2 separate regions of the Homo sapiens genome follow, and region 2 is linked to region 1. Evidence: fine-mapped expression QTL. Tissue or cell type: whole blood. Region 1 holds a variant in brackets; the other region holds the start of a gene. All regions are shown on one strand. Distances are from middle to middle.

Region 1 (8,109 bases):
GAAATATAAATTGCACCTCTCCTAATAGCATTACCTTCTGTTCTTTGGTATATGCCTCCTCCATTCCACTAGGCATCATCCCATTTATAATTTCAACTAATCTCTACTAAACATTTAACTGGCAATGAGCCAATTAATGCATTACATTTTAAAGTTAATTTTTATTTTTATCAAAGTAATACATGTACATAATTTTAAAAATAAAACATGAGAAAAAAGCAGTCCCCAAGCCAAACTCCCCTTCAGCTCCTATTCCTGATTCCTTATGGTAACCACTTTTAATTTTTTTTTAGCTATTTCTTTTGATGTTTACATCCATTTTCTAATAATGTGGTTATACAGTTATTTCTTGATTTTTGAATTTTAAACATTATTTAATTTACTTCATTCTATGGAATATGGGTTACCTCTTTTAATATAACCCCCCGCCTGACACACACACCCAAAACACATACATATTTCCCCTTCTCCATCTTTCCAACATAATTATGGCATCCATTTGGGCTAAATCCACAATTAAAGCTTATATAACTATGAATCTATTAACATTATTTACATCTCAGTTTTGGAGTATATTGTAATTACATTTCTTACACAACTTTATTTCCCAAGAGTTTATATTTGTGTCTATTATTTTTGGTTGCTTGATTTTCTACATAGCTGTCATAAACTCATTCTCAAATGCTCCATTGGACTGAAAACTCTTCTCAAGATAGTCAAACACTTCATGCAATCTATCAGCTTAATCTGTTTCTTGGAGACATCCATATGGACTTTCCTGTCCTTCTATTAAATTCTGGACTGTTTTCTAGGATGCTGGATATCTGCCATTATGGGGCTTTCCTTTGCCAGCATCCTGGCAAAGATCCAGATCCTTTGCCTCTCTCCTGTATTAGATCCCTTGTCTTTTCTATTCCATGACTTCCTCTTTCTGATTTTACTTCTTCATCTTAATGGAACATATCTTCCCACACTTTCTTGAAAAAATGGTACAAGGGCAGTAACTTTGTTGAGACTTTACATATCTGAAAACACATTTACCCTCATATTTAGATAGGTATAGAGTTTTATTTTGCTAAGTATTTTTTCTCAGAAATTTAATAGCATTTCTCCATGTTTTCTAGTTTTTGTTAATTTGTTTTCTTTTCTTTTATTTTTTGTTTGTTTGTTTTTAGAGATGGGGTCTTGTTCTGTCACCCAGGCTGGAGTGCAGGGGGTGCAATCAGCTCCCGACAGCCTCGAACTCCTGGGATCAAACAATCCTCCTGCCTCAGCCTCCCAAGTAGCTGGGGCTTAGTTTTTTATTATTTGATAATCCAAAAGAGTGAACATCAGTATAGTCAGTGGCAGAGCTAGGCTTCCAGCCTATATCTAATTCCAAGCCCAGGAATATTCTTCTCCTATGATATCCAGCCTTTGTATACTAAAGTATGAAGTTATAAATTTGAAATATTTCCAGCAGTAGCTGCAATTTGATAAGGGACTCATTTGCAGACCTAAAGCTTGAGTCGAAGAAGCAAAGTTATGATGGTAAAACAAGATATGTAGTTAAATTGAGGGTCAGGACCCCTGAAACCACAGGATATAACTGGTCTTCTATTTCTATTAAACGTGTCAAGTTGGTAGCATTCCCCAAAGTTTCTTGGGACTCCAGAAATTGCATGTTGGGAGATAATTCTCCATGGGTCTCTCACATTTCTGCACGTCTTACAAGCAGAAACATTGACTGCCTCTGTTCCAGACTATTGTTTCAAGCCATCATCTATGGGTGGTACAGGTAGTGTTTTGCTCTGAAGCAAAGGGCAAGTTTGCCTTCAGCTCTGGAATATAGAGACAGTGTCTCCTAGGGCAAAAGACAGACATGCTTATGGCCCATTATAAATGATTTGGGTTCTCTGAACTCAGGGTTCTTCATTTATAATACTCCCCGTTGCATGTGCAAATATCACCTGCTCCTCTTTACATTGCCAGGCAGTATTTGAGGTTTAAGGGGCTGGTATAAATGCTGATATTCTGTCTACTGTTAATGCTATAAGTAATAAACTGTCCTTGGTTTATTATATAACCAAGGAGTATATATAACCCAGGAGTATTATATCTTCTGCCAGCACCCATGAAACTGACAGGCTAACTTAGCTTGCAAATAGGATACAATTTCAGGCCCTTTTCAGCTTTTGAGACATATAATCAAAATATATAGAAAAACAATTCAGGGAGTATATAGATTAAAAAGAGTTTCCTATTTAAAAAAAAAATTTTTTTGGCTTGGGAATACAAAATTAAAACCAAACCACAGTCTAGAAGTCCAATATACTTGAAATTTGGCTTCAACAAGTTAAATATTTTTCCAATGCACCTAAAGTGCTTAGGTGTTCCTTATTAGTATTTGATATTTCTATGACCAAACATTCTCTGTTTACTTTTAAAGAGCTTCCACAAAATTTTTATCCTGTAAGATACAACTATTTGGGGCCGGGCGCAGTGGTTCACGCCTGTAATCCTAGCACTTTGGGAGGCCGAGGCAGGCGGACTGCCGGAGCTCAGGAGTTCGAGACCAGCCTGGGCAACACAGTGAAACCCCATCTCTACTAAAAATACAAAAAATTAGCCAGGCGTGGCTGCGTACACCTGTAGTTCCAGCTACTGGGAAGGCTGAAGCAGGAGAATTGCTTGAACCCAGGAGGCGGAGGTTGCCATGAGCCGAGATGGCGCCACTGCACTCCAGCCTGGGCTACAGTGCAAGACTCCATCTCCAAAAAAAGAAAAGAAAAGGAAAGAGAAAAGATACAACTATTTGGGAGGTAGGTGGGAAAAGGCTCCTTTACGATTAACTAAAGACTTCAAGGTCTATTTCAATTATTCTTATAGACCCAAAACCCAGTAGAATATCTCAAATGTCTTAGAAATCCTTAACTTAAAGGATAATATAAGGAATGTCTTTTGAATGCATGGCCTGTATTCATTTCTACTTACAGCATCATTAGCAACATCAGTGAATACGCTGAAGACTGTGAACTCTGACCTCGTAAAGTAGTACATGTGCAGCATTACTGCAGGTTAATCTTCATTATCACTGTCACTCTTTAAATACCCAGACAAGACATAGTGTCAAGAAGAAAGCATCTGTTTGTCATCATGCAACATGTAGTCCTGACCACATGAGAAAGAACAATCCAGAGCCTCCCATATATGAGAGGAAGTCTCTGGAACACAGTAACTCTAAAAAATTCATTCATTGGGCTGTTACCTCCCAAGGTCATCCTGGTGCAAAGGTCACCTAAAAAAACTATGGGAAGGTTCTGGGATGAACGAAAACAGCACAATGTTGAATTTATGCCACAGCTGTGATAAAGGGAAAAGAACATAGATTGTAGATTCAGGAAAATGCTATTCAAATTCTGGTTCCACTCTGAGCAGTCATGAAACTTTGGGTATATTTTTTTACCTTCTCTGAGCTCAAATTCCTTATGTAAAAATTGTGATACTATTATATGAACTGTGATAAAACCTGACAAGACTGTTTTGAGGATTACAATATAATGTTA[C/T]GTGCAAAATGTCTGACACATAATGAACTCCTAATAGGTATTTGTTGAATCTAAACTGCAGAGAAGGCCCTGAGCAGTGCTAGGCCTTACAGATTGACATGATACAGAATCCTCAGACCCATTAAAAACTTGATGAGCAGGGCACAGTGGCTCACGCCTGTAATCCCAACACTTTGGGAAGCCGAGATGGGTGGATCACCTGAGGTTGGGAGTTCGAGACCATCCTGACCAACATGGAGAAATCCCATCTCTACTAAAAATACAAAATTAGCCAGGTGTGATGGCACATGCCTGTAATCCCAGCTATTTGGGAGGCTGAGGCAGGAGAATCGCTTGAACCTGAGAGGTGGAGGTTGTGGTGAGCCAAGATGGCACCACTGCACTCCAACCTGGGCAACAAGAGCAGAACTCCATCTCAAAAAAACAAAAACAAAACAAAACGAAACAAAACGCCTGATGAAGCCGGGCTCAGTGGCTCACGCCTGTGATCCTAGCACTTTGGGAGGCTGTGGTGGGCGGTCAGGAGTTTGAGACCAGCCTGGCCAACACGGAAAAACCCCATCTCTACTAAAAATACAAAAACTAACCAGGCATGGTGGCAGGTGCCTGTAATCTCAGCTACTCAGGAGGCCGAGGCTGGAGAATCACTCGAACCCAGGAGGTGGAGGTTGCAGTGAGCCTAGATTATGCCACTACACTCCAGTGTGGGCGACAAGAGCAAAACTCCATCTCAAAAACAAAACAAAACAAAATAACACCACATATCTACAACTATCTGATCTTTGACAAACCTGAGAAAAACAAGCAATGGGGAAAGGATTCCCTATTTAATAAATGGTGCTGGGAAAACTGGCTAGCCATATGTAGAAAGCTGAAACTGGATCCCTTCCTTACACCTTATACAAAAATAAATTCAAGATGGATTAAAGACTTAAACATTAGACCTAAAACCATAAAAACCCTAGAAGAAAACCTAGGCAATACCATTCAGGACATACGCATGGGCAAGGACTTCATGTCTAAAACACCAAAAGCAATGGCAACAAAAGACAACATTGACAAATGGGATCTAATTAAACTAAAGAGCTTCTGCACAGCAAAAGAAACTACCATCAGAGTGAACAGGCAACCCACAAAATGGGAGAAAATTTTTGCAACCTACTCATCTGACAAAGGGCTAATATCCAGAATCTACAATGAACTCAAACAAATTTACAAGAAAAAAAAACCCCATCAAAAAGTGGGCGAAGGACATGAACAGACACTTCTCAAAAGAAGACATTTATGCAGCCAAAAAACACATGAAAAAATGCTCACCATCACTGGCCATCAGAGAAATGCAAATCAAAACCAAATGGCAATCATTAAAAAGTCAGGAAACAACAGGTGCTGGAGAGGATGTGGAGAAATAGGAACACTTTTACACTGTTGGTGGGACTGTAAACTAGTTCAACCATTGTGGATGTCAGTGTGGCGATTCCTCAGGGATCTAGAACTAGAAATACCATTTGACCCAGCCATCCCATTATTGGGTATATACCCAAAGGACTATAAATCATGCTGCTATAAAGACACATGCACACATATGTTTATTGCGGCACTATTCACAATAGCAAAGACTTGGAACCAACCCAAATGTCCAACAATGATAGACTGGATTAAGAAAATGTGGCACATATACACCATGGAATACTATGCAGCCATAAAAAATGATGAGATCATGTCCTTTGTAGGGACATGGATGAAATTGGAAATCATCATTCTCAGTAAACTATCGCAAGAACAAAAAACCAAACACCACATATTCTCACTCATAGGTGGGAAGTGAACAATGAGAACACATGGACACAGGAAGGGGAACATCACACTCTGGGTACTGTTGTGGGGTGGGGGGAGGGGGGAGGGATAGCATTGGGAGATATACCTAATGCTAGATGACGAGTTAGTGGGTGCAGTGCACCAGCATGGCACATGTATACATATGTAACTAACCTGCACATTGTGCACATGTGCCCTAAAACTTAAAGTATAATAATAAAAAAAAATTTAAAAAAAACAACAAAAAACCTGATTGCATGACTTTGCCTACTTAAAATGAGTCTATTTTTTCCTTATGTTAGGTAAAGTGCTCAGCACCTTCAGTAAACAAGCATCAGTCAGCTCTAGACAAAACAAAAAAACTTTATAGCTGAGCTAGGGTTAACCTTATTTCTGAAATTATTACATTAAGATAAAGGTGAAAATAGATGGATTTATACCTGCTAATAGAGAGTCTGAACGCCAAATAGGAAATTTGGGCTTTATTCCATAAGCAATAATGACAGCTTAAGAAAAACTATTCTGATAGCAATACATGAAATGGTTTGGTGGTAGTCAAAAAATAAAGTAAGAAAGATCAAGGCCAGACACTGTGACTCGTGCCTGTAATCCCAGAATTTTGGGAGGCTGAGGAGGAAGGATCACTTGAAGCTAGGAGTTCAAGACCAGCCTGGGCAACATAGCAAGACCTGTGTCACTCAAAAAAAAGAAAAAAAAATTAGCCGGGCATGGTGGTGCATGCCTATAGTCCTAGCTACTTTGAGAAGCTGAGGTGGGAGAAATGCTTAAGCCCAGGAGTTCAAGGTTACTGCGAGCTATGATCACACTACTACATTCCAGCCTGAGTGATGGAACAAAACCCTGTCTCTGCCAAAAAAAAAAAAAAAAAAGGGAAACAAAGAAGGAAGGAAGGAAGGGAAGGAAAGAAAGAAAGAAAAAAAGAAACATCAGTAAGAAGGAAATTTAAGTATTCTAGATCAGAGGCATCAGGCATTCAAGGAATGTTGGTAGTATTCACGTATCTGATATGAAGTCAAAAAAACCTCTTACTGGCTGTAAACTGCTCATGGAAAATGAGTAAATAGTTTACCCTTCAGATGATAGTGAGTTTATCATACATCAGTCCTAGTAACTACTTAACAAAATAATTTCTTCAGGTAGTTAGGTTGATTTTTTTACATATCATTCTTAATAATAACATGGATATAAAAATACATCTTGGTTTCAACAGACACTTTTGTATAAAATTTATTTATTCTAACATAAACTCTTCATTTTTGAGGGAGGAACATAGAAAAGTTATCTTGAAATGATAAGATATGAATTTGAGAGTTCAGTGAAACAATGTCAAACTTTTGGTTGAAGCTTTCAGTTTATAAACATGTTAAGTTTTTTTATATGATCAGTATAGGAAATGGGCATTGACACTGAGTACTCTATTACAGGGCTGTATGAATGCAGAAGGCTCACAAGTTGAAGGAAATTGTAGCTAATATTTCAGGTTATTCAGGGCAGAAGAAATCATCTCATTATTTGTGTTCCATTTATGACTGGAAACTCATCCTCTCAAATATTGCCATGATTTTCAGCAAGCAAGATCATTTAGGTTTACCATCTCGGGGGCTATTATGAAATATTGGGTGGACATTACTGGGTTCATGTACTTGTTTACTTCTTTCATTTTTCTCTTTGCTGACCAAAGGAAATTACAAACCATTATGTGCAACTGTGTATCATTACAGATTTATGAGAGAATAAATGGCTCCTCTGACAGATTTAAGAATGCAAAAGCCTTAAGGAGATACTTTCCTCAAAATATAATTCCATTTCCCACTCCCAAAATTGATCTCTCTCAAACTCCCTTCTCCTCTGGAACTGCTACTCCCAGTGCAGAGAAAACAGAACATATATATGTATATATGTGTGTGTGTGTGTGTGTGTGTGTACATATACATATATATATGTACACACACACATTATATATATATATAATTTGAAATTTCATTCACTCTACTATAGTCAATTCTTCAAGTTCATAGTTGTATTCAGTATTCATCTTAATGGCAAGATCAATCTTATGGAAAATATCAGTTCTGTAATAATAAAGAAAGGAGTATAAAAGCTTGTGAGTGGTAAACCATGCCCCTCAAAGTATAACAGTTTTAACTCAACTAGAACTCAAATAATGAAGGCTAAGAACTAAGACTAAGACTTAATTCCAAGACTAATAATTCTATACTCAATGATTTTGAGTATGGAATTCTCAAATAAAAGGAAGAGTTAAACTCACCATAAAGATCCAAAGAAACATAGTTTGATGAAGTCATGAACAACTATTATGCCAAATGCACAGTATTAGTAAATCTTCACACAGTCTTGATTAGGTAGCATAATAAGAAAGTCAATGATTGGTAAGGTAACCAATCAAGCTGTTAATAAAGTGAATTCCCCTCAGTACTAGAATAAAGAAGATAAGCAAAACTGAAGTGAAAAGAAAAGAATTGTGGTAGACTGTGAAAGGTGGCCCACAAATTTGCATATGTGACTTTGTACCACGATGACTTTGTGCACTATGAGTTTGTACCATATGGATGAGCCTGAACTAGCCCTACTAATGATGATAGATACATGGCTATCACTTCACCAGACATAGAACAATCACCAGACATGTGTGGAACCATCCTAGACAATCTAGCTATCTTTTTTGATGGAAGAAATACACAGTCAACCCACAAAACTGTGAGAA
Region 2 (8,109 bases), 40 kb before region 1:
TGATGTATTTTGATAGAAAGCTGGGCTGTTTAAAGGTAGGGCTGAACATCTTTCAACCCTAAAAGATGACTCTTGATAAATAGCACCTTACAATAATCAAAATCTTTTTACTACATATTTTCAAAGAAGCCACAGTGAATAACACATTAGTCTGAGATTTACACTATATTCAGTTTTAGGCAGCATCTATTGTAATGTGTTCAGAATGTGATTGAAAAAGAAATGTAAATTCAGTGGAATGAAAAAGAGACTTAGCTTTAATTGAAAAAGACAAACTAAGTGAATCATGAGTATATAAAATCTAGCCTATGCCACTTTTATCACCCATATATGACACTTAATCTGAAATTTATGAGACAACTAAACTGTGTTTCAAATCACCAGCAGCTTTTCCTACTCTGTTGTGTCTACCTTCTTTCTAGTAATACTTTAATGCTGGTAACAGGAGCAATAAGCCCATTTGCAAATTTTTCATATAATGCTAATTTTTTAATATGTTTAGATTCTTCTTTTTGAAGAAAACCAATGATAATTTGGATTGGGTAGCTATAAAAACTGTACGTAGTATCAAGAGCCTTATATAGTAATGAGATGAAAATACTTTCAATGGACAGCCATGCCAAAAGATCTCCTCCCAAGAAAAAGCAGGACATTATATACTTAAAATAGGCAAATAATTTTCCTAACACCACATCTTAATTCATCTATATTATTTAGCCCATACAAAAAACTCTGTAAACCTCTAGTCCCTTAATTTACATATATTCCTATTTCTAGAAAAGAATATCTTGGAGGTACGATAGATTTCATTTTGAGATTAAATGTTCTCATATCAACTTTATGCTCTTTAGTGATTGCTGCCCAAATGGGGCAGGCTTGTTCTTGCTCCATAGGAAAACCCAGGTGCTAAGGAGGTAGGTGACTATTGGTGACTCAGTAGGTGGCACTCTTCCCTTTACATACTCAGCCAATGTCCCAGAAGGAAGTTATGGGACACTAGATACACCATAAATAATTCTCATAGGAAAAATAAAACCAAAATGTTGACCAAATTATAAATGGAACTTTGGAAAGGTGGAAATTAAACCGTAATATACTCAGCATTGAAAAAATTCTGCCTCTATTTCAAATAAATTGCACTCTTCACCTAGTGCCCCTACAGGAATCCCTTTAGGGGACTGATTACATACCCTAAATAATATTGTGTGAAAAAAATATTCACACATTATAATCAATGTGTGGGAAAAAATTTTCTAATGTTCTAAAAATTCCCAGTAGGGAAAATGTGGTATTTCTAATCAAGAGTGCCATGTGAACAAAACCTCAAGATCACTTATTTATTGTTTGTTTGGTTTGGTTTGATTTTTCAGAGCACTAACAATCACTATTTTCTTCTTTTAACAATGGTTTCATTTGCTAATTTAGTAAACAGAAAATAACATCTTCTTAGAGCTTTCCTTTTAAAATTTGTTGTCCTAAAACAAATGAATGAGGATGAATGAGAAGGTCTGATTGCAAGCCACTAACAAACCATTATTTAAAGGGTGATTAAACAAATGAAGGAGGCTGGAGGGAAGTGGTTCTAGTTCCTCTTACTTTCTTGCCTGTCTAGAGAAAAAAAAAAATCACATAAATCAAGATTATTCTTGCTGCTAGTCCTAGTCAAAATATTTGGATGTGAGAGAAGATTAAATGGACAAGATTTGGGATTGTCCTTTGATTTCAATTATCCAGGCTAAACCTGTTTTTCCATTGTTGTAGAAAAGAAAAAAATCAAAGGTTGCCTGTAATGCATATGGCAGCTCAAAATTTGCTTTCAACAACGAAATTCTGTAAGTCCTTTTCTGTTCATATAACCAAAAGAATAATCAACATTTTATAAAAAGCATAGGTCTTCAAGACTGACTCCACAGAAAATATAACTAAAAATCAAACTAGATAGCCACTTTTTCAATGGTATCTTTACACAACACATGTGAGTTAACAATAACAACCTCTTTTTTTTTTTTTTTTTTTTTTTACATTTCTATGGAATGGTTTTTATAGGGGAAGGAAAAAGGGAGAGGGAACAAATGTTGAAAGTATAGCATAGAACTGCCATAATCAGACAGAAAAATAAAGAGAAAGAAAAATAATAAATAAGAATACACTTGAGTACCTATCCCTTTTAAGCAGGTGAAATTTCAAACAGTACATATGACATATAATGATTTAGTTTAATAGGCATATGGAACACAAACAGATACATCTAAGCAACATTATTTTAACAGTCATTATCTTTTGATTATATATTCTTCTTTCTAAAAACAAAGGACTTTAAACCCCTGAAAAGTTTAGTTCCTTATCTTCTCTACCTTGGAATTCTAGCATAGTACCATGCATTCTAAGAGCACTCAACTGTTAACTACAACACCATTACCAATATCTCCTCAGTTTCAAAGAAATAGACTAAATAAGCCAGCAATATCTCTAATATTCAAACCAATATAAATACTTCTATAATGTTACTCTAAATCTAGTCATATACTATTACCCAATACACTTGAATTATGAAAAGAATCATGTACAATGCTAACAATATTTTTAGATGAAATACATGAAACAATTGCTGACAGCATCTATTCTTGAAGCGTTCTCTACCTCAAAAAAGATTTTAATTACAGTCAAACATAAAATGTTAGCAACTTTCCAAATAAGTTTTTTTAAAACCTGAAAAACACTGATTTGTTAAATTTCTTTAAACATAAATACGCCCCAACTCACTTCCATACTTCTTGAAAATATCCTCTGAAAATAAAGTGTAATCCAAATTTCCAATTCCAAAAGTTTTAATTGTAATATTTTTTAATACTTCATGTGTGTTTTAATATGTGATTTGCTTTAATAATATAAAATAGTGAAAATGTCAATAAAATGACTTAAAATAATTTCAGATGCTATGCTAGTATATTACCTGACTAAAGAGAGAAGGCAGAAATATATTGGAAGTTAGCATTGGCAGATAATTTAAATATGTAATTTTGAGTTTTTAGTTAAATTACACAAATAAGGGCCACAGGAAATACTTGTGATCTATGGGGATAAGAGAATAAAGGTTCTCATGACCTACATATCATATTATCTGTGATTTATGATTATGGATCCAAATAACAAACTGTACTATGGGAGGTACCAAGCTTTAAAACATGCACCCAGAGGTCTATATGTTATTTCTTAAATTCAAAAATACAGACATAGAATATCCTGAAAATGGTTTCATCTATTTTTGGAATAATGATAAACATTTTTCTGCGCTGGTTATTACAATAATATTCTGAACAAACAATTCCAGCATTGTAAAAACAAAAAATGTTAAGTGTAGTAAAACAAAATCAGTAGTCATGTGATGCAATAAAGCTGCCTGAAGTCAGTCTTTAGACTTCTTTAACTATTTCCCTTAGTGGTACCCGTTAATGACAACAAGCATTTCTTAGAGTGAAAGACTATCCCACCACAAATGCATTCAACATACTGTACCATAATCATACAAACATAAGTCTACATTCATACACTTAATATTACACTACCATATTAATAATGCCAAGCACCAAAATTGAATGACAGAATATTAGGAGATTTGGACTCACATTGCTATAGGAGTAACATATAAAATGTGTCATCAAATGTCACATTTTAGATGACATTGCTTTTTAAGAGCTAGAATAAGCAATCTGTAATCTAGTTATTCATAAGCAATACTGAGAGATAAATATTTTATAGACATCTAAAACTAAAAATCAAAATTCAGTTTCCAGAATTCTGACGTACACAAGACAAAATAAATGATGGTTGAAATTCCAGAACATTGAGATAGGTAAGATTTGTGCTACCTTAAAAACATATATTTTCTACCTTGTACAGAAATATAAATTATTGGTTCTTAGTGAACATACACACCTCCGTATCCAGTAAATTAATGAACTAGTAGTGGATTCATAATGCTACTGAAGAACCACGTTTTTAGCTCCTAAAATAAGTTCCTATAAATGGTAATGTAAAACTGAAAAAGGGAAGATAAGGGTACAAAGATGAAGTACTTTCATCGTGTCACACAGGAAGTAGAACTTTAACATATCCTTCCTTTTTTGCTTTAATATATTACTGAGGCTGGGGACAAGTGGCCATTTGAGAACCAGACCTTCTTCAAAAGTCTTAAACGTGAGTGAGCTGAATGTTTAAGAAAAACGGGAGTTTTAGAAATGACAAACTCTTTCACCCCATAACCCCTAACACCTGTGGCTCTGACAGCTCTTTGCATCTCTACATCCTCTACCTCCATTGGCCAGACCACCCAAGAACTACTTATTTGACTTCTGCTCCCTTCTGCTTGCTCACGCAGCATTCATTATCATTATCATTCTCTCTCCCTCTTCCACTCTTCCTCCCCCGCCCTTCTGTCACACACACACACACACACACACACACACCGTCTTCACAATGCACATAGAAACGTCCTGATCCCATTTGTGTAGATCACCAAAAAGGGCTTCGCCACCATCCCCGCACCAAATTTCAACACACACGTCCACTCCCTTTCTGAGACAAAACAACCCCTCTCCTCTCCTCCCTGTGCCGACCCCACTGGCTAGAAGACGTGGGAAGCGCGGGGAGGGAGGATAAGGGCTCTGAATGCTTCTGTCCCCACCGGCTCACCGTTCCCTCGCCCCCGCCCCGACAGCATTATCGCCGCCTTCCCGCTCTTTACCTGCCAACAGGTTCCTAATTTCCTCAGGGAGGGGGTAGGGAGAGGAGGTGCTGCTGGGGTTGGGCATGTTAGGGAGCGCAGGGCGTGCGGGGAAAGGACCTGCGCTGAAAAGGTGACCGACGGGGTGGGGCTGCGGCTGCGACCTAGACTCAGGCTAGCGGCCCGGATTAAGAACAGCGGGGCTACGAGTCGGGACACTGCCGGGCCGGGGCTCACAACAAGGAAGTCACTGAATCTCCAGCGAGCTGCAGCTGGACTGTCGGCCCAGCCCCGCCCAGAGGGCCGGGGCGGGGAGATGGGTGGGAAGGGACACGAAGGGCCTGAGGGGTCCAACTGCGCATGTGTATTCCTCGGTTTTCCCGGCCCCAGAAGAAAGAGCCTGTGGGCAAGCCACGCCCACCGCTACGCCGGGAAGCAGGAGGAGGAGCCACTGGTGGGAAGGGGGCGGACTGAGGCTGCGTCACCTGATGCTGCGTCACCTGATCCAGCGTCCGGAGCGCCTTACAGCCATTTTCGGTACTGGTGCCATCACAACTGCTGATCGTTTCTGCAGGATTCCAGAAAATAATGTATCCATGATACAGAGTGTATACAAGTTTTGCGATTACGCCTTCTGCGTAACAGTCAGTCCCACCGCAGTTTAACCCACAAGGAATTTTCTCTTGTCCTAAACTATTATGGCCTTCTTTGTCCGATTGAACGGAGGTAACGAAGTCTCGTCTTCCGCCAGTCGTCCGGGCGAAGCCAGTCTGGAGCCGCTCCGGAGCGCGCGTTGTGATTGGCTCTTACATTACTTTTCTACCTAATTCGTATCCTTGGGGTGACAGATTTTCCCCACTACAAGGAAGACTGGGAAGTTCTAAGCACCGTCCTTTGGCAGGAAAAAACAAACAAAACAAAACAAAAAAACAGAAGGCCGAATAGACATTGGCACCACTGTCCATCTACAAGCATCAAAAATAAAATTGCTGGTGGTGGTTAGTAGAATAAAATTATAAAATCTGCTCACTCCAACTTGACCATTTAGTCAACAAATACTTACTGTCTTCTATCTGTAAAGCTTCTTAAAAGTTTTCTCTTTTAAAAAAAATGGCTTCTTTAAAACCTTTAACAGGCATACATCTTTGTGCTTCCCAGATATTGCATTTTTTAACAAATTGAAGGTTTGTGGCAACCCTGCATCAAGCAAATCTGTGGGCGCCATTTTTCCAAAAGCATGTGCTCAGTTCATGTCTCTGTCACATTTTGGTGATTCTAACAATATTTCAAACTTTTTCATTATTATTGTATATGTTATGGTGATCTTTGAAGTTACTATTATAATTACTTTGGGACATCACAAACAGCACCCATATAAGACAGCGACTGTAATCCATAAATGTGTGTGTTCTGACTGCTCTACCAACCCTATACCTTCCTCCATATCTCTCCCTCTCTTGGGCCTCCCCATTCCTTGAGACACAACAATATTGACATTAAGCCAATTAATAACCCTACGATGGCCTCTGAGTGTTCCAGTAAAAGAATCATTTTACTTTAAATCAAAAGCTTACTTTAAATCAAAAGCTAGAAATGATTAAGCTTAGTGAGGAAGGCATATTGAAAGCCGAGACAGACCAAAAGCTAGGGCTCTTGCACCAAACAGCCAGGTAGTGAATGCAAGGGAAAAGTCCTTGAAGGAAAGTAAAAATGCTACTCCAGTGAACACACGAATGATAAGAAAGCGAAGGAGGCTTATTGCTGGTAAAGAAACGTTTTCATGTTCTGGATAGAAGATCAAACCAGACATAACATTCCCTTAAGCCAACGCCTAATCGAGTGCAAGGCCCTAACTCTCTTCAAGTCTACGAAGGCTGAGAGGTAAAGAAGCTGCAGAAGAAAAGTTGGAAGTTAGCAGAGGTTGGTTCATGATGTTTAAGGAAATAAGCCATCTTCAGAGCATAAAATTGTAAGGTGAAGCAGCAAATGCTGGTGAAGCAGCTGCAGCAAGTTATCAAAAAGATCTAGCTAAGGCCAGGTGCAGTGGCTCATGCCTGTAATCCTAGCACTTTGGGAGGATGAGGCGGGCGGATCATGAGGTCAGGAGATCGGGACCATCCTGGCTAACACAGTGAAACCCCGTCTCTACTAAAAAAAAGATACAAAAAAAAAAGAAAATTAGCCGGGTGTGGTGGCAGGCGCCTGTAGTCCCAGCTACTCGGGAGGCTGAGGCAGGAGAATGGCGTGAACCCAGGAGGCAGAGTTTGCAGTGAGCCAAGATTGCGCCACTATACTCCAGCCTGGGCGACAGAGCGAGACTCCATCTCAAAAAAAAAAAAAAAAAAAAAAAAATCTAGCTAAGATATCTGATGAAGGTGGCTATACTAAACAAAGAGTTTCAGTGTAGATGAAACAACACTTATTGGAAAACAATGCCATCTAGGACTTTCGTAGCTATAGAGTAGAAGTCAATGCCTGGCTTCAAAGCTTCAAAGGACAGGCTGATTCTCTTCTTAGGAACTATTTCAGCTGCTGACTTTAAGTTGAAGCCAATGCTCATTTACCATTCTGAAAATCCTAGGGCCCTTAAGGATTATGATAAATCTACTCTGCCTGTGCTCTATAAGTGGAACAACAAAGCCTGGATGACAGCACATCTGTTTACAGAATGATTTACTGAGTATTTTAAGCACACTGTTGAGATCTACTGCTCAGAAAAAAAGATGCCTTTCAAAATATTGCTGCTTATTGACAATGCACCTGGTCACCCAAGAGCTCTGATGGAGATATACAAGAAGATTAATGTTTTCATGCCTGCTAGTACCACATCCATTCTGCTGCCCATGGATCAAAGAGTAGTTTCAACTTTCAAGTCTTATTTAAAAAATACATTTCATGGCTGGCCATGGTGGGTTACACCTGTAATCCCAGCACTTTGGGAGGCTGAGGCAGGAGGATCACTTGAGGCCAAGAGTTCAAGACCAGCCTGGGCAACATAGTGGCACCCCATCTCTACAAAAAAAAAAAAAAAAAAAAAAAAAAAAAGAATAATTAGCCAGGTGTGGTGGTGTGTGCCTGTAGTCCTAGCTACTCATGAAGGTGAGATGTAAGGATCCCTTGGGCCCAGGAGTTCAAGATTACAGGGAGGTATGACTGTGCCAGTGAACTCCAGCTTGGGCCACAAATGAGACCCTATCTTAAAAAAAAAAAAAAATATATATATATATATATACACACATATATATACATATATATACATATATATATACACACATATATATATACATATATATACATATATATACCTATATATACATATATATATACATATATATATATATTATATGGCTATAGTTGCCATAGATAGTCATTTATCTAATATATCT

Evidence for each region. PIP is the estimated chance that this variant, and not a neighbour inherited with it, causes the effect.
Region 2: it holds the start of SKAP2, and the variant in region 1 is fine-mapped to the expression of SKAP2 in whole blood (INTERVAL, PIP above 0.99).

Annotation. Positions count from the first base shown.
Region 1 is chr7:26,899,602-26,907,710 of GRCh38, forward strand. No RefSeq gene overlaps it. Among named protein-coding and RNA genes, the nearest start is that of SKAP2, 39 kb to the left of the region's middle. The variant C/T (reference allele first, on the strand shown) is at 3,546.
Region 2 is chr7:26,859,619-26,867,727 of GRCh38, forward strand. SKAP2 (src kinase associated phosphoprotein 2) reads right to left here and starts at 4,972. Exons shown (of 13, transcript NM_003930.5): 1 at 4,745-4,972. The coding sequence starts at 4,811. RefSeq lists an enhancer at 5,210-5,539.